Regions from separate parts of the Homo sapiens genome. Here region 2 is linked to region 1. A link means that fine-mapping ties the variant in region 1 to the expression of a gene that starts in the linked region. Tissue or cell type: whole blood. Region 1 holds a variant in brackets; the other region holds the start of a gene. All regions are shown on one strand. Distances are between the middles of the regions.

Region 1 (2,681 bases):
TCAGCAGCACAGAATCCAACAGCACCTGAGACCCACAGCCAAGGAAACAGCAGCCCGCAGCTGCCACAATCAACTTCCTGGAGGACAAATGGCCATGCCACTCCTCAATCTGGAGTACAATGGCGCAATCTCGGCTCACTCCAACCTCTGCCTCCCAGATTCAAGCGATTCTCCTGCCTCAGCCTCCCAAGCAGCTGGAATTACAGGCGCCCACCACCACGCCTGGCTAATTTTTTGTGTTTTTAGTAGAGACGGGGTTTCACTATGTTGGCCAGGCTGGTCTCGAATTTCTGACCTCGTGATCCACCCGCCTCGGCCTCCCAAAGTGCCGGGACCACAGGGGTGAGCCACCGAGCCCAGCCCCCAGCTCTTTATAGAAAAAGCACCCACCTCCCTGCCCTGACTCTCCCGAGGGGACAGAGTCCTCTCCTTGCTCAGTCTGGGGCTGGACTGAGGGAGTCCCAGAGGAAGAAGAGGAGGAAGATAGAGGAGGTTGTGCTGGGCTTCCCAGCTTGCAGCATGGCTGGCAGACACAGTCTTGGGGAAGTGGAGCCAGCGGTGGGTGAGGCAGGGTGGCCCGAGCCCTCTCTCATGCTGGCTCTGCTGAGCATGGGGACTCCTGAGAAGGGGGTCTCACAAAATCCACTGTGAGGTTGCCACCGGGCTGTGGAACATGTAAATGAAAACCAAAGATGGTGCTTCATTCTGAGCTCATGTGATTTTCTTCTTTATTAAACTTCAGGAAGGAGAGCTAGAATTGGCTCCTTAGGATACCTCCCCGAGCCCTGGTACCCATCGTGGCTTCCTTCTCTGGCTCCTGTTTCAGAGACTTTGGAAGAACTGTCTCCTTGGTCTCAGACATCACGATACCCGGATCTCAGCTGCTCGCCACTGTGCAGCTGTCTGCAGGGCGGCTCTGTGGGGCTCCCCTCCATTGCCCCAACCACTGCGGGACTTGTTTTGTAGCAGGGCTGGTTTGGAAATTCCTTTTGGGTCACCTCCAGTGGTTCCACGGCAAGCTAAGGAATGGTGGCCAGAAGATGACGGACAAAACTTGAATACGAAGGTGGAGGAACCTTGTGGGCAGGGTGGGGTGGTCCCCTCAGGGTCCGTCTACCACAATCCAAAATAGCATTTTCCCTTTGACAAACCCTGGGCCACCAGAGAGAAGACCTGGGGCTGGGGTCTGCTGACTGTCATCCCAGGCTACTTTGCCTTGCAGATGCTCCTGTCCTGGCTCTGTGAACTGGAGATGCTGGTGGCCTCCATGGACATCCATTACGATATTTCCTCCCCGGGAGAGTCTCTGTCTCTCACTCCATCTTTCTGGACCGAGGCCAGGCAGGTGCTGTGGGCATGGCTGCCCTTAGTTGAGCATAGACCTTCCCTTGACCCTTCTTTTGTGATCTCCTCCCTTTAAGAAGCAGCTGCCCCTTTCTTTCTGCTGGTATGCAGTTCCTTGGTTCTCTTTG[G/T]AAATCAAGGGAATGGGGTACACAAAGGTCAGAAATGCCAAGAAGGGTAGAAACGGGAAGTCTGTTTTGAGTTACTCTGACCTCATCTCCCAGAGGCCTCTGTCCCTCCCTTGATTGGGTCTCTGCCTCAGTGTCTCCTCCTCAAACAGAACCCTCTCTACCCCCACTCCTCCCTATCATGTTCTCAGGAGTTTTGAGCCATTCCTGGCTTGAGTTTTTCTTCCCGGCACGTAGTATCCACAGCCTGACATGTCCACATGCATCTGCTCATCCAGGGAATAAGCTCCATGAGGGAAGGAGCTGCCTGGGCTGCAGCCAGCTGGATTCTGTGCCTAAAACAGGGCGCTGCACCCCCTGGGTGCTTCCTGGCAAGCTGTTATTGCTGAATATTTCTCCCATCCAAGTACTAACTGGGCATTATGGCCATAGACTGAAAACTTCTTTCCTTTGGGAGAAATCTCACACAGAAGAGGGTGCAGAGGGTTGCATGGTAGTCCCCAAAAGATAGCCATGTCCTAGAACCTAGGAATATGATTTATTTACAAAAAAAAGGGTCTTTGTGGATGTAATTAACTTCAGGAGGTAGAGATAAGATCATTCTAGATTATCTAGGTGGGCCCTGAATTCAATGACGAGTGTCCTTAGAAAAGACAACCAGAGGAGAGACCCACAGAGGAGAGGAGGAGGAAGGCTGCGTGAAGTGAAGGCAGAGACAGAGACCGGAATGATGCGGCCACCAGCCAAAGGATGCCTGCAGCCACCAGGAGCTGGAAAGCAGCAAGGAAGGGTCCTCCTTCCAGAGCCTGCAGAGAGCACAGCTATCTGCTGGCACCTTGATTTCCAACTTCTGTCCTTGGGAAGTGTGAGAGAATCAACTTCTGCTGTTCTAAGCCACCCAGTTTGTGGTAATTTGTTAGGCAGCCACAGGAGACTAATGCAGGGGCAGGCACCACCACACCTGGATGCTGGGCGTGGTGAAACAGACCCCGCTATGGGGCAAAGAGTCTGCAAGGAGAGACAGACAATAATTAAGCGAGGAAAAAAGTGTATATAATTACAGCTTGTGAAGATCTCGGAAGGAAACAGGTGGGATTGGGAGTCATGGGGCAGGGGGAGGGGAAGGCAGGAGTTGGCATTTCAGTTGCGGTCCAAGGTGGAGATCGGAAAGCATGGCAAAGCCTGAGTCCCCACCTGGCTCCTTACCCCGGC
Region 2 (2,681 bases), 400 kb after region 1:
AATTACTTGGGCGTCGTGGTGTGTGCCTGTAGTCCCAGTGCCTGTAGTCCCAGCTACTCGGGAGGCTGAGGCAGGAGTAATCGCTTGAACCCGGGAGGCGGAGGTTGCAGTGAGCCGAGATCGCGCCACTGCACTCCAGTCCGGGTGACAGAGCAAGGCTCTGTCTCAAAAAAAAATAAAAATAAATAAATAAATAAAACTGGTAAAACTTCTACAATACCAAGAGCTTAGAAAATGAGTTCTCCTGCCCCATGTGGGATTGGCAAGAGCAAAGAAGAGTCCCAAAAGAACAGAAAGTTTTCTGCAGAGTCTCAAGAGAAGAAAAAGTTTCTGGCAGAGTCCCAAGAGAACAAGAAGTTTTCTCTAACCGGCAGACCAGTAACAACTTTAGGACACAGCATCTCCATCACAGCTTACACAATGGGGCTCAGAATTCCTCACGATGGGGATATTAATTCCATCAACCCTGATTCGTTAGCAGCAGGGAGAATCATTCTCTGACCGTTCCAACTTTTAACATGCCAACAGCCTGTAGACTTGTACACACCTGCCACAGCAGCACATGGGCATTCCCGGCTGATTGATACAGGTTTGTTTTCTTTATTTCCTTTCTCCCCCTTTTAAACCTGTTGTTCCGCTTCCAAGAGTCAGTTCAAGAGGCTGGTGAAGTTGCAGAAGTGGAAACAGCACTAGGGCTGCTGGGCCTTAGTGGAGCTGCACACACATGCCCTAACTCCACGAGGGGGAATCCAGCAGAAGGATTCAGGTCTGGGCGGAGAGGACTGTGGAAAAGTTCTCTAATGCCTCGCTACTCAAAGCGTGGTCCGCGGACCACCCAACCTGGGAATTAGTTAGAAATGCACACTGTCACGCCCCACCCAGACCTGCTGCAAGTTAACCAGATTCCCAGTCAAGTTCCAGAGGTCCAGCTAACAGCCAGAGCAAGTGGGAGGGGCCTGGGAGCAGCTGGATTTGTAGCTGCCTCTGCTCCCAGGAATCCCGGGTACCCCCACACACCGCCTAGGAAGGGACGAACGAAGAGGATTTGGGTTAGGACTGTAAAAGGAAGGCATGTCATTGCCTTCCAGATCACCCTGGAGAGGGACATAGCCGGGGTCCGGGGACTTCCTTCCCACCGCCCCTCACCCTCCCACCCCGCCCCGACACCTGCCAAAGCCTCCAATTTCTCCTCCAAACCCCTCCTCTCTCCAGGCGTACCCCCTTCCAAGCTCCAGGTGGCTGCCCTTCCAAGTCCCACACTCTTGTCCTGATGGCCTCCGACCCCGGGCCTCGAGCCCAACCAAAGGCACCGAAGGAGAGAAAAGCCAACTCACTAGGGTGCCCTCTCCAGCCCCCACTGCACTTCCATCAGCCCCCGCTGCCACTCTCTCGCCGGCTCCACTCCCGCAGTCACTTCCTGCTTCCCTCCCGCACACGTGGCCCTCCCGCCTCCGGGCCCCGCCCCCTTGGCCGCAACTGGCAACTCCCGCCTGAAGAATAGATTCTCTGGTTCACAGCCGTCTGCAGGCTCAGGAACAGATCTGGGCGGGCAGAACAGAGCCCTGAGGCCAAGAGCCCAGCAGTCTGCGAGTGACTGCAGCCCTAAGGGAAGCTACAAACACCCAAGGAAAGAGCCCTTTGTAACACCCCTGATGTTACTTATGCTTCTACACCTTTGGCAGCCAGGTCCATGCCACTGGGTGCGCAGCAGAGCAGGATGTGCTGTGTGTGTGTTGCGGGAGAGGCTGGGGGCGGGTAATGTGATGGCATCGGCATCATTCTCCAGTCAATGACCCTCAAAAGAATCACTGGAGGGGGTCAAACACAAAATGCCAGCACCCCCAGAGGCTCTGGTTCCGTCATTCTGGGTGGGGCTGACATTTTGGGATTTTTTTGTTTTTGCTTTTGTTTTTTTGAGATGGAGTCTCGCTCTTTCGCCCAGGCTGGAGTGCCGTGGCCCAATCTCGGGTGATTGCAGCCTCTGCCTCCTATGTTCAAGCGATTCTCCTGCTTCAGCCTCCCGAGTAGCTGGGATCACAGGTGCATGCTGCCAAGCCCCGCTAATTTTTGTTTTTTTTTTTTTTTTTTTTTTTTTTTAGTAGGGACGGGGTTTCACCACGTTGCCCAGGCTGGCCTCGAACCCCTGACCTCAAATGATCCACTCGTGTGGGCCTCCCAAAGTGCTGGATTATAGGCATGAGCCACCGCGCCTGGCCTGAGATCTTGTTTTGAGCTAGGAGTTGCTGATGCTGCTGTCCTGGGACCACCCTTTGAAAAGCACTGCCCTAGGTCAAAGGCTTTGATCTGCAGGATTTCTGTGAAAAGACCAGAGGATAGGATTGACTAGATTTAGCCAAAAACAAAACAAAATAAATAAATAGATAGAAACAAGATGCCTGGGCTGGGCGCTGTGGCTCACGCCTATAATCCCAGCACTTTGGGAGGCCGAGGCGGGCAGATCACAACGTCTGGAGATCGAGACCATCCTGGCTAATACGGTGAAACCCCGTCTCTACTAAAAATACAAAAAATTAGCTGGGCGTGGTGGCAGGCGCCTGTAGTCCCAGCTACTCGGGAGTCTGAGGCAGGAGAATGGCGTGAACCCGAGAGGCCGAGCTTGCAGTGAGCCAAGATCACGCCACTGCACTCCAGCCTGGGCAACAGAGCAAAACTCCATCTCA

What was found. PIP is the estimated chance that this variant, and not a neighbour inherited with it, causes the effect.
Region 2: SLC39A11 starts here. The variant in region 1 is fine-mapped to the expression of SLC39A11 in whole blood (TOPMed, PIP above 0.99).

What each region holds. Positions count from the first base shown.
Region 1 is chr17:72,693,600-72,696,280 of GRCh38, forward strand. The region is part of intron 7 of SLC39A11 (solute carrier family 39 member 11); the gene reads right to left. Among named protein-coding and RNA genes, the nearest start is that of LINC00511, 54 kb to the left of the region's middle. The variant G/T (reference allele first, on the strand shown) is at 1,473.
Region 2 is chr17:73,091,277-73,093,957 of GRCh38, forward strand. It overlaps SLC39A11 (solute carrier family 39 member 11), which reads right to left and starts at 1,412. Exons shown (of 10, transcript NM_139177.4): 1 at 1,335-1,412. RefSeq lists a silencer at 341-572.